Regions from separate parts of the Homo sapiens genome. Here regions 1, 2, 3, 4 and 6 are each reported to be linked to region 5. Evidence: microRNA targets listed by miRTarBase, many of them from high-throughput screens and not tested one by one. Region 5 holds a microRNA gene; each other region holds the end of a gene's coding sequence.
The links. The annotated mature microRNA hsa-miR-4748 reads GAGGUUUGGGGAGGAUUUGCU and lies in region 5 at 1,968-1,988, opposite strand. An mRNA with a match to its seed (bases 2 to 7 or 8) in the 3' UTR can be bound and repressed. Matches are read on the target gene's strand: a 7mer-m8 pairs with bases 2 to 8, a 7mer-A1 pairs with bases 2 to 7 and ends in A, and an 8mer does both.

Region 1: miRTarBase lists DDX4 as a target of hsa-miR-4748. The part of its 3' UTR that is shown has no 7-base or 8-base seed match.
Region 2: miRTarBase lists NOX5 as a target of hsa-miR-4748. Seed matches in the 3' UTR shown: 7mer-m8 at 4,158-4,164, 8mer at 4,094-4,101 and 7mer-m8 at 855-861.
Region 3: miRTarBase lists SLC16A7 as a target of hsa-miR-4748. The part of its 3' UTR that is shown has no 7-base or 8-base seed match.
Region 4: the mRNA of SLC2A6 is a reported target of hsa-miR-4748. Seed matches in the 3' UTR shown: 7mer-m8 at 4,093-4,099.
Region 6: the mRNA of KANSL1L is a reported target of hsa-miR-4748. Seed matches in the 3' UTR shown: 7mer-m8 at 4,156-4,162.

What each region holds. Positions count from the first base shown.
Region 1 is chr5:55,815,858-55,820,931 of GRCh38, reverse strand. It overlaps DDX4 (DEAD-box helicase 4), which reads right to left. Exons shown (of 22, transcript NM_024415.3): 22 at 3,775-4,469. The coding sequence ends at 4,392. Among named protein-coding and RNA genes, the nearest start is that of IL31RA, 33 kb to the left of the region's middle.
Region 2 is chr15:69,056,141-69,061,214 of GRCh38, reverse strand. NOX5 (NADPH oxidase 5) reads right to left here. Exons shown (of 16, transcript NM_024505.4): 16 at 1-4,650. The coding sequence ends at 4,519. It overlaps SPESP1-NOX5 (SPESP1-NOX5 readthrough), which reads right to left. Exons shown (of 17, transcript NR_033672.2): 17 at 1-4,650. Among named protein-coding and RNA genes, the nearest start is that of EWSAT1, 22 kb to the left of the region's middle. RefSeq lists an enhancer at 735-1,234.
Region 3 is chr12:59,779,236-59,784,309 of GRCh38, forward strand. It overlaps SLC16A7 (solute carrier family 16 member 7), which reads left to right. Exons shown (of 6, transcript NM_001270623.2): 6 at 188-5,074. The coding sequence ends at 444. Among named protein-coding and RNA genes, the nearest start is that of SLC16A7, 190 kb to the left of the region's middle.
Region 4 is chr9:133,467,863-133,472,936 of GRCh38, forward strand. SLC2A6 (solute carrier family 2 member 6) reads right to left here. Exons shown (of 10, transcript NM_017585.4): 10 at 3,232-4,314. The coding sequence ends at 4,159. CACFD1 (calcium channel flower domain containing 1) reads left to right here. Exons shown (of 5, transcript NM_017586.5): 4 at 59-166; 5 at 701-2,986. The coding sequence ends at 791. It overlaps LOC124902295 (a long non-coding RNA gene), which reads right to left and starts at 705. Exons shown (of 2, transcript XR_007061831.1): 1 at 610-705; 2 at 1-380. RefSeq lists enhancers at 743-902, 983-1,032, 1,103-1,152 and a silencer at 1,613-1,732.
Region 5 is chr19:10,777,177-10,782,250 of GRCh38, reverse strand. MIR4748 (microRNA 4748) reads right to left here and starts at 1,997; the gene lies at 1,916-1,997. DNM2 (dynamin 2) reads right to left here. Exons shown (of 21, transcript NM_001005361.3): 5 at 5,035-5,074. RefSeq lists an enhancer at 4,547-4,896.
Region 6 is chr2:210,018,441-210,023,514 of GRCh38, forward strand. KANSL1L (KAT8 regulatory NSL complex subunit 1 like) reads right to left here. Exons shown (of 15, transcript NM_152519.4): 15 at 2,981-4,739. The coding sequence ends at 4,509. RPE (ribulose-5-phosphate-3-epimerase) reads left to right here. Exons shown (of 6, transcript NM_199229.3): 6 at 1,229-3,820. The coding sequence ends at 1,351. Among named protein-coding and RNA genes, the nearest start is that of KANSL1L-AS1, 8.9 kb to the right of the region's middle.

The DNA.
Region 1 (5,074 bases), not on the chromosome of region 5:
ATATACCTAACGGACCCTTACAGTGGTTAAACTTACATGACTTTTTGACTTTATGATGGTGTAAAAGCGATATGCATTCAGCAGAAATCGTACTGTGAATTTTGCTCTTTTCCCAGGCTAGCAGTATGTGGTGGATGGAGACTGTGATGATGGGCAGCAGCAGCCAGACACAGCTTTTAGCCAGCCATGAGACCACGAGTGTAAACCACCCAAACGCTAAAGCATTCTGTGTGGATGCCCAAGTGCTTATTCTTGAGCCTCACCAGAAGAGAAATTGATTGCCCTGTCACCGTGGCATCCCTGTCATCCAGCAATTCTAGATGTTTCAAACATTCTTTGGCCCAGTGTGCTTTCAGCTGTGTACGTTAATGGTGAGTGCCCATATACAACCAGTTTTTCACTTTCAGTATTCAATAAATGAGATGAGATATTCAACACATTATGAAATCGGCTTTTTATAGACGAATTTGCCCAACTTTAGGCTAATGTAAGTGTTGTCAGCACGTTTAAGGCAGGTTAGGCTAAGCTATGATGTTCAGCAGGTTTAGGTGTATTTAATGGATTTTTGGCTTACTGATATCTTCAACTTACAGTGGGTTTATCGGGATGTAATTCCATTGTAAATTGAGAAGCATGTGTACCTACAACTTATAAAATGATCAAGGGTTAAGATATCTGACACCAAGCAGCAGAAAAACAAATGATCAACATAAGACATGATTTCTTAGGTTAAATTCCAGGAATTTAAAAAGCACTAGTAAAGCAGAAAATTCACTATTATTAAGCAACATTTAAACATATATAGAGTGAGCAAGCGAGCTCTGGAGAATTAAAAACAATTGCTAATAAAACGGTTGAAAGTAAAAAATATATACTAGAATATAAAAGATGAAAAAAACAGGAAAGATACAATAGAGAATTCAGTTCTGGAATCTAATAGAAGCTCCAAAAATAGAGAACAGAGAAAACTTGGGAAAAAAATTATCAAATACAAAAAACACTCCTAGGGACCAAGAAAAAAAAAAAAAACAATTTTCAAAGCACCCTGAGTATCACACACAAGTCGCATTCATCATAAAAGTGAAGACAACCAATATCTTTTGGGATCTTTTAAGAAAATTAACATCAAACCTGGGAAGGTAATATGAAAAATGCATGATCTGTCTCCTTCAAAACAAAAAAACACTACAAACAGGGTAAACAAATTGCTCAAAAATTGTGTGATCCAAATTCAAAGCAAGCTGGTATGTGGAATGGCTTTGGGCAGTTTTCATTTGACCCTGACACTTCCCATTCTCCCTGCAGACACAAAAGTCATAAAATTAGGAAGATAGTAAAGGTGAGGCAATCAAGACTGTGTGAATTGGCCCATCCAGTGAACAATATTTATATAAACACATGCTTTTGATTTTCAATTCTGGAATCTGTGTATATAAGGGAGACTTTATGGTTATAGAAAATGCAAATGTTAACTTGGGAAATGTAAATGTGCAGTTTACAGATGTTATGACATACAAATAGAGGAAAGGAAAAGGTGCCTTTAAAATCATCTCACAGGTATACTTCTACGGCGAGTCAGAGATGTGAGTTAAATCTTCATATATCAAAGTCAACAGACGTTCTGGTTGGTGACATAAAAATACAGGTTGAGCATCCCTAATCCAAAAATTCAAAATCCCAAATGCTCCTAAACCTGAAACCTTGAGCACCAATGTGATGCCTCAGATTGTCCACATGTGACTAAGATAGTGACACCTTAGTTTTCAGACAGCTCAAGGTACACAAACTTTGTTTCATGCACAAAATTACTTAAAATATCAAAACTTATCTTCAAGTTGTATATGAGGTATAATGAAACAAATGAATTTCATGTTTAGGCTTGGGTCCCATCTCCAAGATCTCTCATTATATATTATGCAAATATTCCAAAATCCAAAAAAAAATCTGATATCTGAAACATTTCTGGTCCCGAGCATTTCAGATAAGGGATACTCAACCTGTATATGATGGCAGTGAACAGAAATTGTTAATAATAGCTGATTGTTGGATGTGGAATGGCAATTTGGAAGGGGAGGGGCAGAAAAATATTGCTTTCTATTATAAATGCTTCTATGGCATTTTCTTTTCTAATTTATGCATGTTACTTTGATAATTTTTAAAGAGATGATTCAAACCTATACCTAGAAATGAGGAGAGTAATTAAACATAGGGACATTTACAGTTCATCTGTAATGGTGGTAGATGTATGATACATTTCCTTTCCTTTTTTATATTTGATTCAGTAATGCTACTATGGTAATCTGACAAATCAAGCAAAAGCTTAAAAGGAATCAGTTCAGAGGGAGCAATCTGTTAAAAAAAAAAAAAGCAATGAAAAAAATGAGACAAGACTGGCCTATACTCTTCCTAAACGAAACTAGAAAATTAAGACATACAGATATTACAAATAACAATCCAAACACCTTCATTCATTTAGCCTTTCCCAGAAGTGAGATAACAGAAGAAAAGTGAAATATGTCCCATATTTTTATTAATTGAACTTCCCTTTTTGAGTTTTTCTTGTTGTCAACATTTTTTCTTTTTATTATTATACTCGAAGTTCTAGAGTACATGTGCACAACATGCAGGTTTGTTACATATGTATACATGTGCCATGCTGGTGCCCTTTTTGAGTTTCTATGTTCTTTGTATTCTTCTATTAGTATATCCACATATAAAGAACACTGATAACCACTGTGGTCACAGTAATATTTTTCCTTGTCTACTTTTCACTATTTTTTATGTAGGCAACTAATCTTTCCTTGAGTGATCAAATCTGTTGTTTCTTTTTTGATTTCTGTTCCTTAGCTTAAAGTCAACCCTTCAAAGGGTTAATATTTAACTATTAGCTTTAATATTTTATAATTCACATGAAGTTAATTTTAAATATGGCATGAGGTAGGCATCTACCCAGTTATTCTAACACTATCTGTTGATATGCCTTCCTTTTTCATATGTGATGCCTCATTTATTAACTAAATTCCTATAACAAGATATACATCAGGGACATGTCACTTTGGATTGTTTAGGTGAACAGTAACACTTAATACCAATCATTTTTGTCTCCCCAGTATTTACACCTCACTGGGTCTTAAATATTTGGGTTCGTTCATTTAACAATTAATTAATAACTTCGGGCTGGGTGCGGTGGCTCACGCGTGTAATCCCAGCACTTTGAGAGGTGGAGGCGGGCGGATCACGAGGTCAGGAGTTCGAGACCAGGCTGGCCAACATAGTGAAACCCGTCTCTACTAAAAATTAGCTGGGCATTGTGGCGCGTGTCTGTAATCCCAGCTACTCGGGAGAGGCTGAGGCAGGAGAACTGCTTGAACCCGGGAGGCAGAGGTTGCAGTGAGCCAAGATCACGCCATTACACTCCAGCCTTAGCAACAAGAGCAAGACTCCGTCTCAAAAAAAAAAAGAACTTCATTATTCTAGGCATAGTAAGTTCAAGATATATAATGGAAAATGAAGAAAGACAGGGTTCTTTCATCAATCTTAAAATATGAATCAAAAACTTATGGAAAGAGTAAGCAGCATTGTTTTTTGTTGATAAACGGGTTTGAGTTCTAAGATTGATTTTCATTGCCACATCTGTGCAGTAATGTTTATACATTAATATTTAATTTATGTAAGACTTTGTTCACTGCACTGGTTACGCAAGACACAAAAAAACAGTTTCAAAAATATAGGAGTTTGGGCTAGGATATGCAACAAAGAAAAATTTAAAGTGCTGATGGAAAACTTAAGGGAAAAGTGTTTCATCCTTTATTTCAAGGAAAGATTGTATATTATAAAAATAAACATTGTTATGCCATTGAGTACAGAGCTCCCATCACAAACATTTAACCATTTTCATCATACATCTGATGATCTAAAAATCAAAATCACTTTGAAAGGCTTAAGTATTCTACTTTCTCTTAAAGATTATCACATTATAGTGACACACTACTGTTTTAAAGACTCAAGTAAAAATGAGACCCAGTAATTTTTAACCAAAAGTGTATCATATCCTATTTGCTTGTTTTATAAGATCAATAAACACTATAGTAAGACTTGGCATTTAAACATTAAACATGTCTAAGCCCCCTAAAGAATATACCAGAAATAAGAAAGACATTTAGAATGCTTTAATATTCCCAGTTAACACCATTTGTATCAGTAACTGCAATGTTGTAAGTTTTAGCATCTCACATAACTAGTCAGTAAGGATTTTTTTTTTAAGTGTAGGAGTGAGAATACAAGGACAGGAGCTATGAGAATGTTAAGTTTTATACTTCTGTTAAAAACTCAAAAATCAAAACTATTTTCTTCTCTGCATCAAAACCACAGACTTGAAGGATGTTTTGGCTTTAATCCCATGACTCATCATCTACTGGATTGGGAGCTTGTGAAGAAGAAAACCCAGCTGTGTTCAAAGTGCTCTTGCCCTGGTAATTATTTAAAAAAAAAAAAAAAGAAACAAACAAACATTTAATTTTATGACAGCTTTAAAGTTACATCACTCAGACTGAGAGCAAGGACTCAAAGTATCTACCATGTCTTCCCCAAATAATCAAAGAACTTTATTCTCACTAAATCTGATTCACCTGAAAAAAGGCTCCTGTCAAATGAGGAAATCTAAATTGCACAAAATGTTTCAAGAAAAATATTTTTTAAGTCAATAGTTTTGACAAGTGGGGAAAACTTAATGCACTACACTCAATGAATCAGCATAAATATTTAATTAACATGCTCATTGTTTCTGAATAAAGGCGGTGTTCAGCCTATAAAAACCTGACATACCAGAAAAGACTTGTAGCCTCGTGGCTGGGCGCAGTGGCTCACGCCTGTAATCTCAGCACTTTGGGAGGTTGAAGCAGGTGGATCACTTGAGGCCAGGAGTTTGAGACCAGCCTGGCCAACATGGTGAAACCCTGTCTCTATTAAAAATACAAAAAAAAAAAAAAAAAAAACCAGCTAAGATGGTGGCACATGCCTGTAATCCCAGATACACTGGAGGCTGAGGCATGAGAATTGTTTGAACCTGGGAGGC
Region 2 (5,074 bases), not on the chromosome of region 5:
TCACTTGATACCAAATCAATATTCAGGATCTTAGACAACACTGCAGATAATCTCTGCATTTTGTTTTACTCTTAAAAAATAGATACAAGCCATACAAAAGTACATAAATTAAAAAGTAAAATATCACATGAGTAATACAGGAAGTGAAACCTTACTCAGGTAACACACAAATACAGGAAACAGATAAGAGGAAAACATTCAAGTCCTCCTTTGCCTCCTCCACAGTTAACCACTGCGAACTGCTTAGCATTTGGGCATCATCGGCCATCAGCAAGAAAACGCATCAGGATGGCTGGCTGACTTTTCTCCTTTCACCAGATGTTAACAATGCTGTAGACACATCTGGGCCCCCAACAGATAAGGGCTGTCTGGGCCCAAGACAGATTAAGGCTGGCTTCTAACTGTCTTTCCGTGTATTTTTATCTATTTATCCCCACATGATATACATATGTCATTTATTTTCTGTGTTATAAATAGGATTATATCAAACACTTGGTACTTGTTTTTTCTTTTCTTTTACATGACATCCTATTTGGGGTTTCTTTTTAAAATAAAACTATAATATTAATAAAAACTTAAACTTTACAGAAGGGCAAAAAGTAAAACAAAAACAAAAACACAAAATCCTTTCCTTCATTGTATCCCTCCATTCCCACTCCCCAGAGCACACAGATAAATATACTTTCATGTATCCTTTTAGAAATGACAAGTGCTTAAACGCATACATACTTGATCTGTTCACTTTATAATAAGAAAGTGAGAACTCAGAGAGGTCAAATGATACACCCAAGGTCACACAGCAGACTGTGGCAGAGGCAAGTGTAGGACTCAGTGCCCTGCCTCCCAGAGGGCAAAGGTTTGTCCACTGTGTCTCCAACAGGTTGGCCCAGAGCCAGTCTCGGCTAATGTTCCTCATCCCTCCCTACCTTCAACCTTGTCTGCCAGCCTGGTGACTCTCCATGTTGCCCATGCCCCCTCCCCTCCCACGAATGCCCCAGCTCAGTGTATTAATAGCCTGCACTTGTGCCGCTCGTCCAGGAGGGCCCTGCCTGATTGGTCATTTCAGGAATGCCTGCTGTCTCCGTCAGCGCTGTCCTCACAGAACAGTGCAATGGCACCTGGCAAAGTGGTTCAGTGGGCTTGTGTTTGTGCTTTTGTTCCCCAAATTACAAGTGACAATTAGGTGCAAAAGACTCTTTGTAAGGATAATTCCATTTAAGTAACCCCTTGCCCTGGGAGGAACCGACATCTGGTCTACACTCTGTGCTAGGCTTTGGGTCCCCATGTCTGGCCTTGGGGAGTTTGCAGCTTCATGGGGGAGGATGGGCACACGTGCCGATAACTGGCCTTGCTCCTTCTCTCTTCTCTTTGCATGTGTCAGCCTTATCTGTCGTGGGCCCAGATGTTTCTACAGCATTGGCAACATCTGGTGAGAGAAGAAAAGTCAGCCAGTCATCCGGATGCATTTTCCTGTTGATGGCCGATGATGCCCATCTGCACATCTGGGAAACATCCAGATGGTCAGACCATGCGTGCTGTACACTCACATGTGTGGTCCTGCTGCCTTCGATGACATGTCCACCGAGGCAGACAGAACCTGGACCTGTGAACTCTCCCCAAGCCAGGCCTGTTCAGTTCAACTTGACCTCACCGATGGACATTTTGTTGCAAGCAGAAAAGAGGAAAGCCCAGAACTGGACACTGGGTATGGGGAGGGTAGAGTTTCTGGGGGAAGGCAGCGGCAGTGAGAAGCTGCCAGCTAGAGAAACTGACCTTGAACATGAAGTCTCTTGACTTCACAGAGATGGAGCCTGGAGGTTTTGCCTCTAGTGGGGAGCTTTGGAACAGGGCGTTGTCTTCCCAGCCCCTTTCCCTTTGATTAACTGCCACTCACGGACCAGTCTCACTTCCTGGGAAACAAACCCGCTTGAGATCCGTGATTCTGCAGCGCCCTCTCGTGGGCAACTGGAATCTGTCTGGAGAGAAAACCTCAGGACACGGGCATATGGTCGTCACACATGTGGGCATTCACGGATTTTAGAATCGTATGTCCAAGTCCTTCCACCTGCTCCCACCCACTATATTATTAAGTCCTAAACGAACAGCTGACTATTTGTATATGCGGGTGGGAGCCTGGTGGAAATCTGTTACGAGAGGGCAAAGGACTGAGGGCAGGGCTCAAATGTGTTAAGGCGGTGTAGACAGAGATGGGAAAGAATCCAAAACGGTGACATGCATGTGTGTGTGTGCATTGAGTGCATGTGTGAGACATCCTGTGCTAAACAGATTCTGCCACGTTTCCAAATGATTTGGCACAGCCTGTTTACATCCTCCAACCTTAAGTCAGAACACCCTCTTTAGTTTCCTTCTGTGCCCCAGAGAGCGTTTTGTCCAAGCCTTCCCAAGCCTGATGAAGAGGGGAAAGTACAGACTCAACAGAGGGAAAGAGGTTCCAAGAGTGTGTGGCCTCAGGCTGGTAAAACTCCAGGTGTGAGTTTCCCTGGTGAGTTGTGTGCCTCCCCAGGCTTGCTGGAAATTAAACACGATCTGGTTGGAAGGCCCCAACACCAGGTCTCCTGGCCTTGCTGACTCCCAGTCCAGGGAGATGGAGGCTTGGTGCAAGCACGAGCCCCGCTTTCCACCCACCCAAACCGAATTAGCCTCTCCTTGACTGCAGGCCCCACTCCTCCTCTCGTATTCTTCTTCCCGTTCCTCCTCACATCTTAAAGATGACATCCTCACTCCCATCCTGCTCTGTCCCAGTCCTCAGGGTATGTTTTGCCTTCCCCTTCCCAGGGCCTGCCTCAGCGTCTTCCTCCACCATCCCCTTCCTATTGCCCCTTTCAGAAGAGAGCTTTCCCCCACCTTCATTCTTCCATCCACCCAACTGGCTCATCCCCTGCAGGTCACACCCACCCCTACTGCTGCATCCCAGCCCCACCTTAGATAAGGGACATCATCATCCAGGTTATGATCCGGCTTCTTTACCTCCCCCTTTGCAACCATGGACTTCCAACCCATGGAAAAGAAAGGTGCCAGCTACAATCCCATTGGAAAGTGCCTGGTTCCAACCCCATGATGGCAGCCTTGGGGAAGGGTGCTTTACACTGTCAAGAAGAGAACCTATCAGGACTGACTGCAAGGTGGAGGATGCCCAGGAAATGTGGGGCTCACAGGAGCTCATGGTGTGGCACAGATGGAAATGTCCAGCTCAGATGGAGGAGGTGAGGCCCACCCTGTCCTCTGCCCAGGGCCGCTCCTCCCCACAGTATGTGCTGAGAGAGCCTTTGCTGCCTCTGCTGTTCCCTCCTGCCCAGACAGGGACAGACGCAAACAGAGGCTGGAAAACAGAGACAGAGGGAGCCAGGATAAAGAGAAATGATGTAGATGCACGAAAGCCTGGAGCAGCAAGGAGCTGAACTGAGGTGGAATGTCTTGAGCACTTGGCGTCTCATGTCACCTCACAGCAACTGTGACTGACGGATGGCATCAGCTTATTTCACAGATGAAAATAACAGACATGGGGAAGCTTCCAGGGCCACACAGCCAGAGTGTGGCTGAGCTGAGCTTCCAGGCTTAGCCCGCTTCATCCCCAGGCACTTGGCCTTTCCACGACAGAGAGAGGCACACAAAGAGGCTGTCTCCATCCTGTTTCTCAAGCGACTCAGCACACAGAGAGAAGGAAGAGGCCAGCATACAGAGCCCAGAGAGGCTCTGAGGGACGCGCCAGGAGAGAGGGAGATGGGGAGACAAAGACACAAGGAGGGGCAGGGAAAGATGCTGCTTATTTCTCCCTATGCAAATGGATTTGGTGGAAAATACATATTTCAGGTTTCATTCCCAGATCATCAGAATCAGAATTTCTGGTAGTGGGACCAAGGAATGTGCATTTGAAGAAGGCTCCTCCAAGTAGCAAGGTGTGCTGAGATATTTGCACCTAACTTGAAAATGCATCCAAAAAATCAGATAAATTGACAGATGGAAAGAGGGAGGAGGAACTGATGGATAATATGTGATAAACAGAGCAAATTATTAACTGAGGAGTCTAGAAAGTAGGTAACACTGTTCACTGTATGATTCTTCTCACTTTTTGTAGGTTTGAACAATTTTATAAGATGCCGGAGAAATAAGCTTCCAAATGACTGTGATGATTGGGCAGGTTTGGGACCATGGATGTGGGGGAAGGCTCCGTCGGAAAATGTTTGGAGGAGTGGTTGCCCTCTGCCCCCTCGAACCCCACCCCCAAGCTCCCGTGACCAGCCTCTGGTTCCCTCACTTTCACAGAAACCCCAGAATCTACAGCAGACTGAACAAGGCACTGTCCCTTCCCCTGGGTTCTAGAGGAAGTTCATCTGCCCCTTGGGGTCTCCTGTTCTCTCTGTTGAGCAGGATTAGGGGGTCCCTAGGCTTTGTCTTATTGGGTGGGTCATCTGAGGCTGGTCCCTGTGGGGGCATTTATACTAATGCAATGAAGCAGACCCATGGTGTGGACTTGGGGCAGAGCTTGGAGAGGTGAGGCTAGAAATTCTCTTGGAAAAATCTGAAGCCGAACTTCTCACAATGGCCCTTCAGCACCTTGGCCAGAGCTGGGGAGCCACAGAAGAAGACCTGCACCTTGCCCTTCTTCTCAGCAGCCACTTTCTGGAACACCTGGAGTCAGTGGGGTTGAGGAAGAGAAGAGGGAAGATAGGTGGAGCTGCTGACTCACCAGTGACACAACCACCTGGAGGTAACAGCATAACGGGTCGGCAGCAATGAGCATTCCCATTTTACACAGGGAGCTGCATGGCACAGCTGCTGGGTTTTACAGCAGAGTTCAACACTCAGCCATTCAACTAAGAGCCATTTGTTCAGCTGGCAACATGACCCAGAACCCCAGGTAGAGGACCAGGGCCAGAAATAAATAAGACCCAGGCCCTCCACTCAAGGATCTGCAACTGTGGGAGACAGGCACTAAATCAGACACGCAGAGAGATGCATACAGTGCTCTGGGACTCCCATGGGAGTCTGAACCTGGTGTTAGTCCCCAGGGCTGGCCACCCTGCTGTGATTTAAATATCCTTCCTGATGTCAG
Region 3 (5,074 bases), not on the chromosome of region 5:
GTAAGTGTCTCTGCATACCTTTACTAAGCATATGTAGAAGTCATAATCTAGATTTTTTTATTTTTAAAGTCTTATTTGACATTAATTTAAATAAGAGGAATATACTTTGAAGAATAATTTATTTGAATTTTTATCATTATATGACTGTTTTATTATGCCAACTTAAAAGATGTTCTTTGTCTTCTAGGTAAATTGGTGGATTTAACTGGAGAATATAAATACATGTACATGTCCTGTGGGGCTATTGTGGTAGCAGCAAGCGTGTGGCTGCTCATTGGCAATGCTATCAACTATAGATTGCTTGCAAAGGAAAGGAAGGAGGAAAATGCAAGGCAGAAGACCAGAGAATCTGAACCCTTGAGCAAATCTAAACATTCGGAAGATGTTAACGTCAAAGTTTCAAATGCACAGAGTGTAACCTCAGAAAGAGAAACTAACATTTAACAAGAATCACATCTCTGATTTCAGTGTTTATGACTTTATCTAGGAGTTTGTTTTTCATTTTGTTTTTTTAAAGTATTAGAAAAGGTTTTAGCTGAAATGAGGAGTCACAATTAAGGATGGAGGTGATATTTTCCTCAATGGCAAATTTTAAATTAGTTTTTAAAAACTTACTTATTTGGGTAGTTAAATTTTGAGATTATGCATAGAAAGAATCCATGCTATAGGTTTATTTCCATACCTGACTCTGGGTGTGGTGGTTAAAATACTAATTTTAAAGTCTTCCAGTGACTTTCGGTCTTGGTTATATGGAGAATTCTGAATCCCAAACCCCTGGTTTAAGTAGGTAGAAGGAGGATGCCTAATCCTACAAAGTGACCCTTTATACATTTCATTTTTTATTTGATATTAAAGTATGAGATAGAGTTGAGAGACAATTAATTATCCCCTCTTACACACAAACACACATACTCCCACATACTTACCCACATGTACACAGAGTATCTGGAGAATAAAACCCAAATTCAAAAAAAAAAATGATAATTTATTTTTAAGGTAAAAATAATCCATGAAGATAAAAGAAACATATGTCTGCGTGCTACTTTACAATGTTGGTTTTAAAGATAAGCACATGGGTAAAAATGAGGGTGATCCTTATTCAAAAATAACATCTGACTACTATAAAAATATTTGCATATATAAGTTTGACAAAGAAAAGAAAATCAATGTTAAACCATTAAATCTGAGCACTGTTAGACTTGATTAATCCATGCACATGATTTTTTTTGAGTAGGGAGCATTAGTACCTGGTGCTAGAGAATAGAACCCTCAAATAATTTTTAGAATTCTTACCTAATATGTAAAAGTCTGCATGACTCTTAACAATGAGTCACATCCATTGATTTTACAGGGATTTTAGTTCGTAATCCAGAAAGTAATAATCAGGGATTTTATTTTAATCAGGCATCAATCCAGATTCACTGTTATACTGAAATATCAAAGTAAAATCCTAGTTGGCAGGATTGTAAGTAGACCGAATTCTAATTTTTCCCAACACATAGTGGTAATTGGAGGTTACTGTTATGAATACTCCATCTGACTACGACTAAGAGAGTGAGGGGTGGTTTTAATGAACCCTCTAAGCTCTCTCAGTTCCTTCCCTTCCACAAAATGCAAGAGCAAAAGCAAACTACAAACAGGCCTTGTGCTCAACCACTGGAAATGCCTCCTGGGATAAGAATGGCAGCACTTGAAAATTCTGCCCTCTACTGATGAGACTTCCTGCTGCCTTTGGACATAACTAAGCCAGGAAACTTTAAAAGCCTTCTAGAAATAGAGGCACTGTATGACTTGCAATCGTAGGTATAGTTTATAACCTGATAGCAAAAAACTTGAAATATTGCAGCCCAGTTTAATTCAGCACTTTCCCATTTTCATAACTATGTGAAAACATCTGGGAATTTGAATCACTCCTGAATACAGAGGCATATTCTTTTTAAACTATAAATACCATTTTGAGTGAGAAAGTACTTTTAAACAAGAAAGAAATTGTACATTATGACTAAAGTTATAAATACAATATTTATATCTATAAATCTGAAGTTTAACATGATTAATTTAAAAAGTATTTAGTGCTTGACAAAGTAGTGTCACTCTTAAGATGTCAAAGGGAATTAGCCATTTTTTTTATTGTAATAAAGGCAGGTGCTATTTTTTTCTGGTGAGATTGCACCTGGATACCAGGCTTTTGTAATAGTTAACATTAAACATTTGATTCATAAAGTTAATTCACTGCTTAAGCATGTGGCTCATATTTAGGAAGCTATATAAAATTCAGTTTTTCATTTAACATTTGCTCTTTTGCATATGAAGAGATATTTGTATTTTTCAAATGTTAAGTAAAACAAGATGTGCCAATATCATAGGTAAATAAATTAGGGAAAATGTGGGACTTTATGGCTGTTTTTAATTTAGTTTCACCCGATCTTGATTCTTGAATTAGCTATGTTTATATTTTTAGTTCTTTTTTATTCAACTCAGATTTGTCAAGAAATGTAACCTCTAAATTGTGTAGTACCTCTCCAATCATAAATTTTCAAAAAAAAATTCTACTTTCCAAAAAGTGTCTTGAATTCTCTGAAAAGGCACATTAAACTAATATGAACATCAGATACCAGGGGGAAATAAATGGCAAAGTAATAATCATGAGGTTTTAGGTCAAAGACTACATTATATATATTTTTTATTACCTTCTAGTAGAGACATCCTCCTGGGTGCATTTCAGTGGCCTTCTCCAGGGAGGAGGTTTATTTACTTACTGATGAGTTTCTCGTCACGTCAAAACCAGTTCACATTTGTCTGGCTGCTCTTTGGTTGTCTTCATTCGTTATTTATTTCTAACACTGTATTAAATTGTTAGAAAAGAAAGTAAAACTTGCACATTCAAAGCACATGATTTGTACAGTCACACCTGGCAGTAGCACTGCACAGTTACAAATATGCACACACGTTAACTGCTATGCATAAATATTGACAGTTAAACCAGAACACAATTGAAACAGTGACATAAATACCTACAGGATTCAGAATTGTTCCAGGGTAATATAAATTATTCTACTTGTTCACTCTCCCCACCCTCTTGAACTTGTTAGAAGATTTGCTGCTTTAGCAGAATCTTTCCAAGATTGAGAAAAGTGTATCAACCTAGGATTTTCATTACTATATAGTCACATAAATGGAGGAGGAGATATATTTGGCTTCTGCCTCTGCAACAATTAGTATGAACATATTTCTTTCTCTAGGGAATAATAGGTTTTAAACATTTGAGATATCATGAAGCAAAGTCAGGGTATACCACTACAATCCCCACTAATCTCTATTCCCACATTATGAAATTGTACAGAAGAAAGGGTGTCATTAAATCAAGGTATCCAGATAATTCATGGCTACTTTAACTATTTTTTCATTCGTGTTAACTGAGCCCCCCATATTTTTTACTACTTAACCTTAAATATGCCATCACTAATTTATGAATAGAACATTGTGTTTGCACTTTTCCTGACCTATCCTCACCCCCTTTCCTGATCCTTTTTGCATTCACCTAGCACACCTTAAGAGACAAAAAATCAGGTTTTAGTGTATTTCACATTGGAAGACATGATGTTTTCTCAGTATAAATCTACAGGACTCATAAACAATCACTTTTTTGGTGCCAAGTTTCAACCCTTTAGCTCATGGACTCATTGGCCTCAGCCTAATACTAAGAAACAAGTAAAATAATTAGATTTTCTATGTTTGAATGTGCACTTTAAAAAATCTAGATAATTTATACTCATTCTTTTCTGGCTGTACAACATGACAATCAAGAATATAGAAAAGAAGACTAAAAGATATATGATATAAATGTAAGTTTTTATGTAGATGACATAAATATGAAGAGATATTCTTGGTCAGTTGGTTGAAACATTTTTTATCTAAAACACCTTTAAAAAATCCCTTTCATATGTAGAATGTGGAAGGCTTTTAATAAAACAAAAATTATTATTTTTAGGCTTAATTTAATAGGGAGATTGGATGCATAGTGGAAAGGGAACTAATATTTATATGTTATGCATTTTGCTTATGTAATGCCTTTCAATATGAAAACCAAAACCATGGCAGAATTATTACTAGCTTGATATGACAGATGAGTGAAAACAAAAAACAAGCTCAGCAGACTACCCAAAGTTAAAAGGTAGTATGAACCAAAATTAAAACTCAGGTTTACGTAACCAGAAAGATCCCCGAGGTGTTCACTACCGTGCTGCCTCCCAATAGAGGCCAGAGAAGCAAAGGAAGATAAAATATAGGTACAAAAAAGATACATCCTATATAGTAAAACAATTAGGTTTAACTGTAACTTGTATTATGATTTATTTAGTGTTTATTAGAGAACTGCATTTGCTAGAACCTGAATATGTAATTTCTTTCTTTCTTTCTTTTTTTTTTTTTTTGAGACTGAGTCTCGTTCTTGTCGCCCAGGCTGGCGTGCAGTGGCACAATCTCGGCTTACTACAACCTCTGCCTCCCAGGTTCAAGCAATTCTCCTGCCTCAGCCTCCCGAGTAACTGGAATTACAGGCATGTGCCACCATGCCCGGCTAATTTTGTGGCTTTTTTTGTTTTGTTTTGTTTTGTTTTGTTTTAGTAGAGATGGGGTTTCTCCTTGTTGGTCAGGCTGGTCTTGAACTCTGACCTCAGGTGATTCACTCGCCTCTGCCTCCCAAAGTGCTGGGATTACAGGCGTGAGCCACTGCGCCCAGCCTTGAATATGTAATTTCTGATTGCCTGCTTTTCTCCCCAATGCAAATTATCTCAAATAATGATAATTATTACATATAGACATAATTACTTCAATATGACTCTTTTTCTCATAAAAATAATGACATATTTGAGTCAGGCATAATACATTTTTTCTGAGGTTGGAGTTAGCAGGAAAATGTTATCTTTTATGAATAAATAATTCCCAGATTGGTTGCTACATATCATGATTCAAAAAGTAAAATAATTACCTGGATGTGGTGATGTGCACCTGTAGTCCCAGCTACTCGGGAGGCTGAGACGAGAGGGTCATTTGAGCCCAGGAAGTTGAGGCT
Region 4 (5,074 bases), not on the chromosome of region 5:
GGAAGGATGTGGTGGCTGTGGGGCCGGAGTGCCCCCTTGACCTCTGCTTTCCCCCCAGGATGGCGGTCGTTCCCATCGTCATCAGCCTGACCCTGACCACGCTGCTGGGCAACGCCATCGCCTTTGCTACGGGGGTGCTGTACGGACTCTCTGCTCTGGGCAAAAAGTGCGTCTGCCAGGCCCAGCCCCTGGGCAGGGCCTTCCTCCCTCCGCCCCCCGAAGTCCTTCAGTGAGGAGGATCTGAGAGTGGCCCCTTTTAGCTAGTGGAGACCGAGGCAGAGGTCCCAGTAACTCATTGGTGCCTCCAGGGCTCAGCTCGAGTGGGTGAAGACAGAGGACTTACAACACTTCTGCGTGGCCCAGTCTTGCCCCGTCACGGCCTGCAGCAAGGATAGCAAAAACATGGCTGGTGGGAGCCCCTTCCCCTCCCAGGTCTGCACCGGGCATTGTACTCAGTTGCCACCCTCTCTCCTGCAGAGCCCAGACTGAGGCTGGTTCCTTCGCAGCCCAGCATCCCAGGGAGCCTGGGCCATTCTCAGAGGGGACAAGACAGGCCTTTGCCACCCCAGCAGTTGTCTCTGGGGAAATCAGAATGCCTGCAGGTCACACCTGGGTCACAGGGCAGGAACCGGGCAGTGGTCAGGAGGGCTGTGGGCATGGGGCTGGTGCTCCACGTGACGCTGCCTCTCTCTCTCCCCAGGGGCGATGCGATCTCCTATGCCAGGATCCAGCAGCAGAGGCAGCAGGCGGATGAGGAGAAGCTCGCGGAGACCCTGGAGGGGGAGCTGTGAAGGGCTGGGCGCCCCTCCCTCCCTGTCCCCTCTTCTGGCTCTGTGTGGGTCCAAGTGAGGCCTGGACTGTCCACGCTGAGGCACAGCCTGGAGAGGGGCCTTTGCACGTGTCCCTACACCTGGAGTCCTCTGCTCCTTTCTCCAGACTGGCTTAAGCCAGGAGCCACTGGCTGCTGGTGTGAGGGTCTGGGCTGCTGGACTTGAGGCAGAGCCTGCAGCAGCTGTGTGGACACTACCCAGCCCTACTCCTCTGCTGGGTGGGTCTGCAGATCTCACACCACAGACAGGGCTGCCTGTGACCTGCTGTGACCTGGGAGCAGCTTCCCCTGGAGATGCTGGTCCTGGCTTGAGGGGAGGGGCAAGTGGGACCCTGCCACCTGGGCACTGAGCAGAGGGACCTCCCCCAGCTCTCTTAGCAGGTGGAGCCCCAGGGCCTGGGACAGCCTGCCGCTGCCAGCAACCTCCCACTGCTGCCTAGGGTGCAGCGCCCACTGTCACCCTGCCTTCTGAAGAAGCCCACAGGGCTCCTAAGGTGCACCCCGGTACCTGGAACTGCAGCCTTGGCAGTGACTGGACAGCTGGGTGGGGGATGCTCCCTGCTGGCCCTGGGAACCTTGGACAGGCCACCTCAAGGCCCCTCGGCTGCCCCTCCTCCCTGGGCCTGCTGGGGCCCCTAGGTTCTGCCCATCACCCCCCGCCCCTGCTGGCCTTGGTGCTAAGGAAGTGGGGAGAGCAGGCTCTCCCTGGCACCGAGGGTGCCCACCCTCTCCCTGGTGTGGCCCCGTCAACATCAGCCACAGCCCAGCCCCATTAGTGGGTTAGTGGGTCTGACCTCAGCCCCACTCAGGTGCTCCTGCTGGCCTGCCCAAGCCCTGCCCTCAGGGAGCTTCTGCCTTTTAAGAACTGGGCAGAGGCCACAGTCACCTCCCCACACAGAGCTGTCCCCACTGCCCTGGGTGCCAGGCTGTCCGGAGCCAGGCCTACCCAGGGAGGATGCAGAGAGCTGGTGCCCAGGATGTGCACCCCCATATTCCCTCTGCCCTGTGGCCTCAGCCCGCTGGCCTCTCTGACCGTGAGGCTGGCTCTCAGCCATCGGGCAGGTGCCTGGTCGGGCCTGGCTTAGCCCAGGTGGGGTTTGGCAGAAGCGGGCGGGTGTGGAAGATATTCCATCTGGGGCCAACCCCAGGCTGGGCCTGCGCTGAGCTTCTGGAGCGCAGGTACTGGGTCTTGCTAAGTGAACTGTTTCCCAGGAACACCTCTCGGGCCCATCTGCGTCTGAGGCTGGGAGTGGCATCTGAGGCCGGGAGTGGCATCTGAGGCCAGGAGTGGCAGGCTGGTGGGCTGGGCGTGGGGTTTTCTGGGCCCTGCCCAGTACTGCCCTGGGGACTTGGTGGGCTCCTGGGTCAGCAGCATCCCACCCCTGGGAGTCTGGCCAGCTGAGCCCCAGGGTGGCAGGGGCATTATAGCCTGGTGGACATGTGCCTTCAGGGTTCCTCCGGGGCCACCTTCCTCAGGCCAGTGCTGGGTTCAAAGGGCTGTGTGTGTGTGTGTGTGTGTGTGTGTGTGTGTGTGTATGTATATGTGTGTGGGTGCACACATCTGTCCCATGTATGCAGTGAGACCTGTCTACCTCCCACAAGGAGCAAGGGCTCTGCCCGCCCTCTGCTCATTCCTACCCAGGTAGTGGGACCCCGGGCCCCCTTCTGCCTGGCTTGCCTGCTTCTGCCCTTTCCAGAGGGGTCTCACTGACAGCCAGAGACAGCAGGAGAAGGGTTGGCTGTGGATCAAGGAAGGCTGCCCCTGTACCCTGTGGGGAAATGGTGGGTGCATGGCTGGATGCAGAGGTGGAAGGCCCTGGGCCACAGGCGAGAGTGGGCGTGTCACCTGTCCCAGGTTCCCAGCAAGTCTGCAGCTGTGCAGTCCTGGGGTCCCTGACCCTGTCGCCCAGGGGGCGTGCTGTCCAGCAGGGGCCCTGCCTTGCAAGGAACGTCTCTTCCGGCGGCTGGGCCGCTCCTGCCTGGTCTGGGCTGTGTGTGGCGCCCTTTCCTCCTTGTTTGTTCCTCTGTGTTCTGTGTGCGTCTTAAGCAATAAAGCGTGGCCGTGGCTCGCGTGCCTGCCCTCTGCTCCCTTCTGCCTTGGTGCCTGTGTGTGAGTGTGGAAGCCAGGCAGGAGCCGCTGGCCCAGGAAATAACTACAGGTCCTGTCCCGAGGCTGCCCCCAGCATCCCAGACAAGGAAAGTGACCTGCCCAAGGTCACACAGCTAGAAAGAGCCTGTTAAGGGTGGGCCTCGCAGTGGGCTTCCCCTCACTGCAGCCTTTTCCCTGCCCTGCTTTTGCTATGGATCAGCAGTCAGTGGCCCTGGCAACCTTGGCTGGTTCGGGTCTAGCCTGGCTGCTGTGGGGGCTCCTGGAGTAGACCCCACTCTTTCCTCGCTAGGACTACAGGTCCAGTTCCTTTATTTTTACAAAAGGGTGAACACAGTTTGCAGATAGGAGCTGCCTGTTCCCAGAGGTTGGGCTGGGGCAGGAGGAAGTGGCCACGCCAGGTCCTTTGCCCTGGCTTTTTTTTTTTTTTTTTTGGCAGGGGGTGGGGACGGAGTTTCACTCTCGTTGCCCAGGCTGGAGTGCAATGGCATGATCTCAGCTCATTGCAGCCTCCACCTCCCGGGTTCAAGCAATGCTGCCTCAGCCTCCCAAGTAGCTGGAACTACGGGTGTGTGCCACCACACCCAGCTTTTTTGTATTTTTTAGTAGAGACGGGGTTTCACCATGTTGGCCAGGCTGGTCTTGAACTCCTGGCCTTGGGTAATCCACCTGCTTTGGCCTCCCAAAGTGCTGGGATTACAGGCGTGAGCCACTGTGCCCGGCCTGCCCTGGCTTTTTAAGTCCAGGATGTTCCCTGTGGTGCCCATAAGACTTGTGAGGGCAAAGCCGGGTCTTCCTTGCACAGCCAGATGCCACCAGATCAGAGCGCGATGATATGACTACGTTACTTGGCTGCCTCCAGCCCTGTCCTCTCAGTCCTCCCCGTAGCCTTCTGTGGGGCGTGTCCTTCACGCAAGGGAAAGGGACTAGGCCTGAGGTCACCCAGCAGGGCCGTGTCCCTGGATGCAGGGTTGTATGCACTCCTGCGGCCCATGGCTACGTGCAGCACTGTGGGCTGCCTGGGCTGGGGCTGTGGCTGGACAGCAGTGCTACCTGTCCCGAGCCAGGGGCACCCGCTGCTGAGGCCCCATCACACTGCTCTTCCTGTGCTCTGGCTGGTGGCAGGGATGACTGCTGCCTCTTGGTCCCAGGGTGCAGGTTTGTAGCCAACACAGAGGCCCAGCCACTGGGGGTTTGGCCCCCTCCAGGCGGGGACCTTGACCTAGCGCAAGAAGGACCTTCTCCCCGTGCGGAAGAAGGACTCGATCTGCTCCAGGGACCGTCCCTTGGTCTCGGGCACACAGCAGCCTGTGAACACCAGGCTCACCAAGCAGATGGCCGCGAAGAAGAAGAAAGGCACCTGGAGGCCGAAGGTGCTCTGCGGGTGAAGAGCGGGGCCGGGTCACAGGGAGAAGCTCCAGGGTCCTCCTGCCCCAGAGGAGCTCGTGGGCGCTGCTGGTAGTGACCAGCCCTGTGGGGCCTTCATCTGGTCCTTCCTGTGTTCAGAGACCGCCCCCCCACACCAGGGCTCCCCCACTGTCCCCAGGACAAATCCGAAGTAGCCCTTGAAGTCTGCATCCCGTCTGCCCCTCGGCCTTCCTCAGGGGCTGGGCCCTCTGGCGTCAGCTCAGGTACCCCCTCCACACCCCCTACCCAGCGCTGGCATCCCAGCTGTTCCATGCCGCGGCCTGCAGGAGGCCCGCCCTGCAGCCTGGTGGGCACGCAGGTTCTTCTTGGACCCTCTAGGCTGATGGACTCACTCTGGGTTGCCTGCCCTCCCCCAACCCCCCTGCCCTGACCACTGCAGGGACAGCTTAGGCGCTGGCCTAGGCTGCCCTAGCCAGCTTCTCCCTCATGGGAACTTACTCTGGGCCTCACAGATTCTGGCTGGTCACAGGGCCCGTAGTTTTGAACCAGGAGGCAGGGGGAGTGGGTGGGGTTGAGGGGGGAGTGTGGCTGCTGCTGAGACCCAGCGCCCAGGAGGGCGGGAGATGAGGCACGGTGGGGAGGTGGCTTCCGGGGCCCCTGGCAGGGTCCTGGGCCATGTCCTGCCCTGGCCCAGGAGGTAACCTGACTTCCCAGAACAGTTGCCTACGCCCGTTCCTGTTTCTTATAATGAAGAGCGTTTGCTAGGCTAT
Region 5 (5,074 bases):
ACCAGCCTGGGTAACATGGCAAAACCCCATCTCTACAAAAATATACAAAAATTAGCGAGGCGTGGTAGCACACGTGTATAGTCCCAGCTACCTGGGAGGCTGAGATGGGAGGATCACCTGAGCCTGGGAGTTCGAGGTTGCAGCAAGCTGTAATCACCCCACTGCACTCCAGCCCGGGCAACAGAGCGAGGCCTTGTCTCACAAGAAAAAAAAGAAATAACATCTTAAAAACAAGAGCAATAGGGAAGAGCTAAAATCCACTATCAAACGAGTATATTTTAAACAGTTGGGTACATCAGGGTATTCATGTCCAGAGAGATCAATGGAACTGAAAAGAAAGTCCAAAACTACACCGAGAAGGAGGTAGAACTGAAAGTTAACGCTTCAGTATATGGGGGAGAAAAGCTGGATAATTCAATACACACTGTTGCAAAGAATCCAAGTGGAATGCCTACCATTGCACTCCTGGCTAGGTTTTTGTTTTGTGGGGTTTTTTGTTTTGAGACAGAGTTTCACTCTTGCTGCCCAGGCTGAAGTGCAGTGGTGCAACCTCAGCTCACTGCAACCTCCACCTCCTGAGCATCTGGGATTACAGGCGTGCGTCACCACGCCTGGCTAATTTTTGTTTTTTTAGTAGAGACGGGGTTTCACCATGTTGGCCATGCTGGTCTCGAACTCCTGACCTCATGATCTGCCCGCCATGGCCTCCCAAAGTGCTGGAATTACAGGCGTGAGCCACAGTGCCTGGCCTGTGCTCCCTTTTCTTTGTAGTGGGGTTGTGCATGTTTCTCTTGAGAAGCAAGGGAGAGGTGCCGGTCATCTATCCTGTAGGGTCTTGTGGGATGTGACTGCTCTTCATCCTCGCCAGATCTCTCTTGGATCCAAGAGGGAGGAGGGAAACGAAGACATGCCAAGGTGAGGTCACAGTAGGAGACCCAAGATCTGAACCTAGATCCCTGTGAAGCCAGAGTCACCATCACCTGTGTGACAGCACAAAGAAGGAAACAGCAGGGGCCAGTAAAAAGCATCTGGCTTGGATTTGGCTTGATTTACTTAATTAAGAGATGGAGTCTCGCTCTGCTGCCCATTCTGCATTGCAGTGGCACAATCATAGCTTACTACAGCTTTGAACTCCTGGGCTCAAGCCATCCTCCGGACTCAGCCTCCTGAGTAGCTGGGAGTACAGGCACGTGCACCATCACACACGGATTTTTTTTTTTTTTTTTTTTTTTAAAGACAGAGTCTCACTCTGTCACCCAGGCTGGAGTACAGTGGTGCAATCTCAGCTCACTACAACCTCTGCCTCCTGGGTTCAAGCGATTCTCATGTCTCAGCCTCTCGAGTAGCTGGGATTACAGGCATGCACCAACACACCCAGCTAATTCTATTTTTAGTAGAGCTGGGGTTTGATCCACCCGCCTTGGTCTCCCAAAGTGCTGGGATTACAGGCGTGAGCCACTGTGCCCAGCCTGGATAATTTTTTAAGAGAGAGATGGGGTCTTGCTGTGTTGCTCAGGCTGGTCTCAAACTCTGGGCCTCAAGCCATCCTCCCAACTGTGCTTTCCAAAATCCTGGGGTTATAGGCATGAGCCACCACGCCTAGCCTGGGTTCCCGTAAAGGAGGAGGAGTTGTGAGTCATTAGTACGCCAGGAAAAAGGGTCCAGTGGGAGGGCTTCTGAAGCCTGAGGTCACAAAACGGGAGCAGGCCTACAAGTGAGCTGAGAGTGGAAGCGCCTTCGTTCTTAGAAACAGGAAGGAAGGCAGAGAAGGGCAGCTGTGGACATCAGTGAGTCAGGAGGAAGGGGAAGAGGCCCATATCACCAAATCCTCAGCCTGGCTAGTGCCCACAGACCCCAAAGGCCCTTAGGATCCAAGATGGAGGCCTAACAGTGTCCAAGGGCAGCCGGGTCGGGGTGGCTGTAGTAGGGCGTGGGGTTGGGTAGGGTCTGCTTTCCTCTCTAGCACCAGCAAATCCTCCCCAAACCTCAGCCAGCCACAGATTTGCTTCTCAGCCCCGGATCTTCACAGCTAAACAGGGTTTTGAATTTAGCCCTGACAGCATTCCCCTGGGATCCGGGGTCGCCTCACCACTCAATATCTCAGCAGTGCTGGGGGATGCTGGCAACCAAGGTCTGAACTTTTCCCCACATCTATCTCAGACATCGAGGTGGAAAACCCAGGAGTAAAAGAAATGCTCTAAATGACTGCGGCTAAGCATGAAGGGAAAGGCAGGAGGTGCCCGCAGCTTAGAGTAGATGCCAGAGGGGAGGAATGGCTTTAAAAAAACACAAAAGAAGGCTGGGCACGGTGGCTCATGCCTTTAATCCCAGCATTTTGGGAGGCTGAGGCGGGTGGATCACATGAGGTCAGGAGTTCAAGACCAGCCTAGCCAACATGGTGAAACCCCATCTCTACTAAAAACACAAAAATCAGCTGTGTGTGGTGGCGAGTGCCTGTAATCCCAGCTACTCAGGAGGCAGAGGTTGCAGTCAGCTGAGATTGTGCCCCTGCACTCCAGCCTGGGCAACAAGAATGAAACTCTGTCTGAAAAAAATAAAACAAAACAAAATAAAACCTAGCCAGGAGCAATCGCACATGCCTGTAATCCCAAATACTTGGGAGGCTGAGCTCGGAGGATCACTTGAGCCTGGGAGTTTAAGGCTACAGTGAGCTATGATTGTCCCAGTGCACTCCAGCCTAGGTGACAGAATAAGACATCGTCAAAAAAAAAAAAAAAAAAAAAAAAAGAAAGAAAGAAAGAAAGAAAGAAAGAAAAAAACTTATAACAGCAAGAGTGAACCCTGATGTCAACCATGGATGTGGGGTGGGGTGGTGACAATGGGTCAACGCAGGCTCATCAGTTCTAGCAAATGCACCGCTCTGCTGGGCACGTTGAAAGTGGGAGAGGTTACAGATGTGTGGGCTATAGGGCTGATAGGAAATCTCTGTATCTCCCTCTCAGTTTGGCTATGAACCTAAAACTGCTGCTCCGATAAAATAAAATGCTTGAAAAATTTTTCTTTTTTTTTTTTTTTGAGACAGACCCTTGCTCTGTGGCCCAGGCTGGAGTGAAGTGGCGCCATCTCAGCTCGCTGCAACCTCCACCTCCTGGGTTCAAGCGATTCTCCTGCCTCAGCCTCCCGAGTAGCTGGGACTACAAGTGTGTGCCACCACGCCTGGCTAATTTTTTGTATTTTTAGTACAGACAACATTTCACTGTGTTAGCAAGGATGGTCTTGATCTCCTGACCTTGTGATCCGCCTGCCTTGGCCTCCCAAAGTGCTGGGATTACAGGTGTGAGTCACCATGCCCGACCCAAAATATTTAAAATATTTTTAAAATAAAATAAAAAATACTTAGGTTACTCCTATCAGAAGATCTGTACCTGAACTTGAACCTGAACCTGATCTAATTACCAGCTAACAGAGAACAATAATTGGCCAAATCCCAAATGTGGGATGTGGTCTGGTTTCTTCCACAAATGAATGGTATAGAAAAAAACAAATGGGATGGCAAGGGGAAGTATTTGAAAAGAAATGTGGGTATTTATGTGTAAAATGCTACAATGCCTAGGATTTATAGAATTTTTTTTTTTTTAGAGGCAAGATCTTGCTCTGTTGTGCAGGCTAGAGTGTAGTAGTGTGATCATAGCTCACTGCAGCTTCGAACTCCTGGGCTCAAGCAATCTTCCCACCTCAGCCTCTTAAGTAGGTGGGACTATAGGTGTATGCCACCATGCCCAGCTAACTTTTTAATCTTTAGTAGAGACAGGGACTTGATATGTTGCCCAGGCTAGTCTTGAACTCCCAGCCTCAAGGCATCCTCCTGCCTCAGCCTCCCAAAGCACTGAGATTACAGGCGTGAGCCACCTCGCCCAGCCAGTGCCTAGGATTTGTGTTAAAATCTTCCAGGAAGATGGCCGGGTGCGGTGGCTCACACCTGTAATCCCAGCACTTTGGGAGGCCGAGGCGGGTGGATCACGAGGTCAGCAGTTCGAGACCAGCCTGGCCAACATGGTGAAACCCTGTCTCAATTAAAAATACAAAAATTAGCCACGCGTGGTGGCTGGCACCTGTAATCCCAGCTACTCGGGAGGCTGAGGCAGGAGAATGGCATGAACCTGGGAGGTGGAGGTTGCAGTGAGCCCAGACTGCACCATTGCACTCCAGCCTGGGCAACAGAGACTCCGTCTCATAAATAAATAAATAAATAAATAAATAAATAAATAAAATGAAAAAATAAAATATTCCAGGAAGAAAATAATAATAATAACCACCGAAGCTGGGGAAGCCATCCACGAGGATTCTTTGAACTTTTTTCCACACTTTTGGGAATGTTTGAAAATGCTCATAATAGGCCGGGTGCGGTGGCTCATGGCTGTAATCCCAGCACTTTGGGAGGCCAAGGCAAGTGGATCACCTGAAGTCAGGAGTTTGAGACCAGCTTGGCCAACACAGTGAAACCCCGTCTCTAGTAAAAATACAAAAACTAGCTGGGCGTGGTGGTGCCCACTTGTAATCCCAGCTACTCAGGAAGCTGGGGCAGGAGAATCAGTTGAACCTGGGAGGCGGAGGTTGCAGTGAGCTGAGATTGTGCCACTGTACTATAGCTTGGGTGACAAGAGCAAAAACTCCGTCTCAAAAAACAAAAAGGAAAAGGAAAAGGGAAGGGAAGGCTCATAATAGAAAGTAATAAAAAAATTAATTAAAGTTATAAACCCTGGGGAGCTGGGAGCTGCAGATTCACCAGTGGCTGTCTGGGGGAAGTGTGGCTGCGGGTGAGTTTAGTTTCCTCTTTCTATACACTTGTTTTCTAATGTTTCAGAAACCAGCAGGTGTTAATTGTGCACTTGAAAAACGAATGCATACAAATCAGAAGAAAAAGATACATAGCTCAAAGGGAAAAGAAAGAAGGAGTTACGGTGAAATGGAGAAGCAATGACTTCCAGGCAGGCAGGGAACAGGTGCTGGGGTTTCAGTAATGATAAGGACCCCACCCATCCTCCTGCTTCCCCAGCACCCCCAAAGCCACACCTCTTCTCAACGGGAGCAACTTGTTCTCCAAGACGTCCCT
Region 6 (5,074 bases), not on the chromosome of region 5:
TGAGGATGCCAGCCCTTCTGGTAGCACTGCAAGTGATTAAAGCTTACATGACTGCTTTTCTTCCACAGTGTGATGTATCTACTTCCAGGTTCTTGTATAACTGCCACACGTTTCTGCTTGATATATACCTATCAAAAGCTTGACAGTAGTAAATACTTATGCAGGAGGGGCTGGCCAGATGATGAGTGAGCTCATATCCTTTTGATCGCTTGTGGAATTGCTTTGTACTAAACTGTGCTTTGCCAGTATACTATTCCTGCTTTTATGCCAGAGGTAGCAAATTTTTTGTGTGAAAAATCAGACCTTGGCGATGACCTTAAACAGCAGGATATGAAGAACTCCCACAAGCTTAGCGTTCCAATAATGGAACACTAGGCATAAATGGGTTAACTGAAGAGAATATTTGCAGTGTTAACCCTATAAAACTCACCTTTATAATTTCTGTGAGGAATATTGTTAGAAATGTTGTCATACATGAAGTGACACTATCTGTCTGGAAAAATTTTCCTCAGCCTGTGGTTCTCCCACTTCTCCCTCTTTGTTCTAGCAATGAATCACAAAACAGATTGGGTTTCCATCCTTGAATCAGATCCTAGGAAGATCAGAGTTAAATTTGGACCCAATTTTTTAGCTTTTCTTTTTCAATTTCTTTGCTTCCATATTTAAATGTATCTTAAAAACTTTTTTAAAGCCACTTCAAAACCATTCTGAAATGCAATGAAGTATAAAGAGACATTCTATTTTTTGACACAAAAACGAGAACTCACTTAATTTTGCCGTAGTTTATGGATAATTTTACATTTTTAGCAATAATTGTCCTTTCACACTCACAAATTCATATAAATATAATTCAAAGAATAAAAGTGTTTTTTTAGTAACTGTAGAGGCATTGGTGCATATTGGGAAAAACCTTAGTGGACTTGAGGAGTAAAGGCTTTTAAACCTTATCTAAAGGTCGCAAAGATACCATGTAGATTATTAAGAGTTGGTTTACCAGAAAGGTCAATGATTTCTTAGACACATTTAAAAATAGTCTGACATCCTCATCTGTGAACATTTTAAATTTTTCTTATTGAACTAGATTGCTTAAGTCTGCTTAATCTCAAAGTGGCTCTCATATGATTGAAATGTTGACAGATGCAAGGGTAGACACTCTAGTCCAGGAATTCTGTTTTAGGTTTTTCTACATTTTCCTTTGAGGCATAACCTAACTGTTTACTTCTTCCAGGCAGGAGCTAACATGATTGTGTCTGGCAGTGCTATTATGAGGAGTGAAGACCCCAGATCTGTGATCAATCTATTAAGAAATGTTTGCTCAGAAGCTGCTCAGAAACGTTCTCTTGATCGGTGAAACCATAAGGAGCCCAGTGTTCCTGTTCATGAAATCTCCCTTTTACTGGAAAACAGGAATATTGACTACCAAATCACAATGCAATTGAAGCCGTACTGCTTTTTTGAGCAGTTATTCATTCCAGTGATTAAAACTGATTGTGCAGAATATTCTAAGAGGTCAGAAATTGGTGTGTATAACTACATTTTTAGTGATGCAATTTATTGATTAGTGAGTAAGATACTGTTTTTATTGAGAGATTTGATTTTTATAAAGTAAAAATACGGCTGCATTAGGGTTACAAACAGAAAAGTGTCTTAATGTCTAAGGAGGGCATATTAGCTACACTACAAAAACAAATTTTGTCTGTACTTCTGAAAAGAATTTTGTTGTTTCTCAGCTGTTTTCCAAAAGCAAAGGAAGTCTTTATGGTTTTTTTCTATTTCATGTTATTGTGATTTGTTTATAAGTTTGGGTGGGGTGCATACCATATTCTTGGTTCTTAAAATCTATCACTTTTCACCTTACACTTGATGTGTGAAAACTATAAAAACAATGTGTGAAACCCAGGGGTTCTAAAATACAAGCATAGATTTTATCAGGGTGTTTTGTCAAAGCAGGTTATTCAGTGATTCCTCCCCACCATTCTTAAGAACGTTAAATAATGCTGTTGTGTTAGCTCTGAGTAGAAAGGAAAAAGTAAAACCTCTGTTTGGAGGTAATATTGGGTTGAATTCTGACTGCCCCTTTCTAGCTGGACCTTTAACAAATCACCCAATCTTTTTTGTGTTTCTCTAAAGTCATTTATACATTAAATGTAATTATAGCAACTGTGGGGTTCTGTTGAGAATTAAGAGCTAACACTATATATGTAAAGTTTCCAGTACTAGTCCCAGAATTTAGAATATGCTCAACACAAAGTAAACAGCATTATATAAGTTTATATTTTTGTGAGTTATAAAGTACTTTGATATATTCTCATTAAATCTGTAAATCACCTCTATAAGTAAGTGGTAATAATAAAGCAGATATTTTTGTCCCCATTTAAAAAATGAAGAAATTAATGCTTAATAGGGTGGTACCCTGGAAAGGATCTGGGAAGTGGTAGAATTTCTGGTCTGTACTTTTACAAATGGAGCCCTTGGGAGGTGGGTTAGGTAAAAGAAGCTTTTTACTTAACGTTGTCTTATTTCCAGTCTAATTTTACGCTGTAGCAGAACCAGATGGCTGAGAAAATTCTGGAACTATGGATCTTGACCCCAAGGATATATTATTTTATTCCAAGAAAGATCAGGTAGGCGAAAAGATGACAGGATACAGAGTCAATCCATAAACTAAATATTTATAACTGTTCTGAATTATACAGAGTCTAAAAATATGTGTCAGCTACTTCATTCCTGTAAATACTCTTGCTGTGTTATAAATATGGCAAGAAATAAACATGACCAATATCAATAGACTTCTTGAGGCTACTATAAGTTTTGAGAAATAAGGTTCAAAAAATAAGAATGCTAACACTTAAGCACAGACTAGAGCTTGCTTGGGTTTCTTCCTGCATTACAAGGTAAAAATTTGTTAATGTTTGTTTTTATTCAGCTTGGGAAAGCTTTGTGCCATGAATACGTCGCATTTAATAACAAGCAACACACGGCATATAGAAATAACTTTAATTAAAAAACTTACATAGAAGATTATAATATCAGACGTGACAAAGATTTGAGTTTATTTGCCTGGACAACTTGGGTTTGTCTGGCTTTTGTTTTCTTTTTCTTTAAAAATAAATGTACAGTAAAACTACAAGCAAAAGTTTGTCAGTATTGAATTGAATTTTTTACCCCTTAAAAGGACTAGTATAATTTCCAATCTCTAACAAAAACTTAGTGTCAAATCTCACAGATAAGGCCAAATGGCCAATATTTTCAGTTATGTGGGTAGTACAACTTGAGTAACCTTTTTTACATGACAAAAAGTGAGTTATATAAATTGTCCTCAACTTTCACATAGGAAAAAAATGGTTTAATAGCTTCAAAAGGAATTTTCTTTCATGTATACTCTTCAGTATCCAATATTGAAGCTTTGTTCTTTGAAAAATTTTAATTTCCAATCTAGGATGCAAGCAAGAATATATGTTTATTTGAATAGAGTAAGCTATGGCAAAGAATGACCAAATTAGCTAGAAATAGAAATCAGCCAGAATTAACTAATTTCTTGCTAATCTAGAAATACAATCATCTTTTTTTTTTTTTTCAAATTTTATACTGATAGGGCTTTACTGTTTGTGGCTCATTTTAAAACTGGTGTCTTCTCTTCATGAGACACATTAATTGGTAAAACTCAAATTGAGTTTTCAAAGATGTGATAGTATTAAAGTGCACCAATATTTGACTCAAATTTGCTTGCTTTATTTTGTTAGGAGTAAACAGAAAGTAGCCTGTGTTTAGTCCCAAAGATAGCAGTGATTTTGAATAAAGGAGTTTTGTGTTGCCTGGATATATGAATTTCTGTAAATAACTTCTGTTGGTTAAACATGTTAAAACAACAACAACAACAACAAAAAACTTCTGTCTCTATATTCAGGACGTTCAGATGTCTTTTATTAGTGGAAACCTGTGTTTTATCTATTCTGCAGCTTACATTTCATAGGGTAGTTCATACATGCATTTCCAAGGGGAGTGGGTCATTGCCAGTGTTTTAAAAACTACATAGGGGTGTGTGTGTGTGTGTATGTTTATTTTATACACACATATTTGTATATTCTAATATATTACTAAGGCAATTTTAATGAATTACCATGTATATAAAAAAATAGCTGTCACTTGGCACACAGGTTTGTATGTATGTGTATATATATATGTATGTATGTATGGTGTGGGTACATAGTCTTAAAAATTACCCAGTAATGTGATTTGACATCAAGTTGCAGCAATTAATATCTTGGTGTTTGTAAGTAAGTTGCATGATAAACACAAATGACTACCACTTGTCTGTAGATGAAAATCTGGTTACCCTTATGGTTCCAGAAGGAAAAACAGACTTATCTTGCCTGTTTCATAAACAGCATAAAAGATTAATACATGCAGAACATGCTCTTATTCTGGAGGGGATGGGGGATCCAGAACAGGGCTTTATTTCCTCCCATCTTTCCTACATTTACATAGTTTTCTTAACCTGTTCCCTGTCACCTATTTTTTTTAACATTAGTAAGTCCTAGACCAAAGGTTTTGTATTCTTCCATTCCATCTGACTGCTTTTTTGGATGGTGGCCATTCTCTGGTACACTGGTACCGAAGATTTCACCATGGAAAGCTGTGCTTGACCTTTCAACCTGATCCTTTTTTTCATCTTGACATAATAAGGCTGCCATGTCTTCACCCTTCAGTGGAAAAGCCCGTCGTTCCCACCACAAAGACTGAAAGGGGAAAAATTTTCAGTTAAGTTTCAACTAACTTGTTTTGTTTAAATTCATCTAACAAGTAATCTGTACATGTCTATATTGTAATAATTGTTCTGTTCTTTAGCACATAAATGTACAATTTTTCATTTCAACTTAAATAGCAACTCAAAATGGAATATATTGAGAATTGTTGAGTGACTTTTGGGATTTATTTCTTTACTTTGCCTCTGCCAAGAAGAGGAAATGCTGCCATAGGCAGTGGTCTTCATTTCCGACCTAAGAGTACTTTGGGAAAGTGTTCTTAGGTTTGATATACTTCTACAGTATCTTCATTTTCATTATTAAAGGTA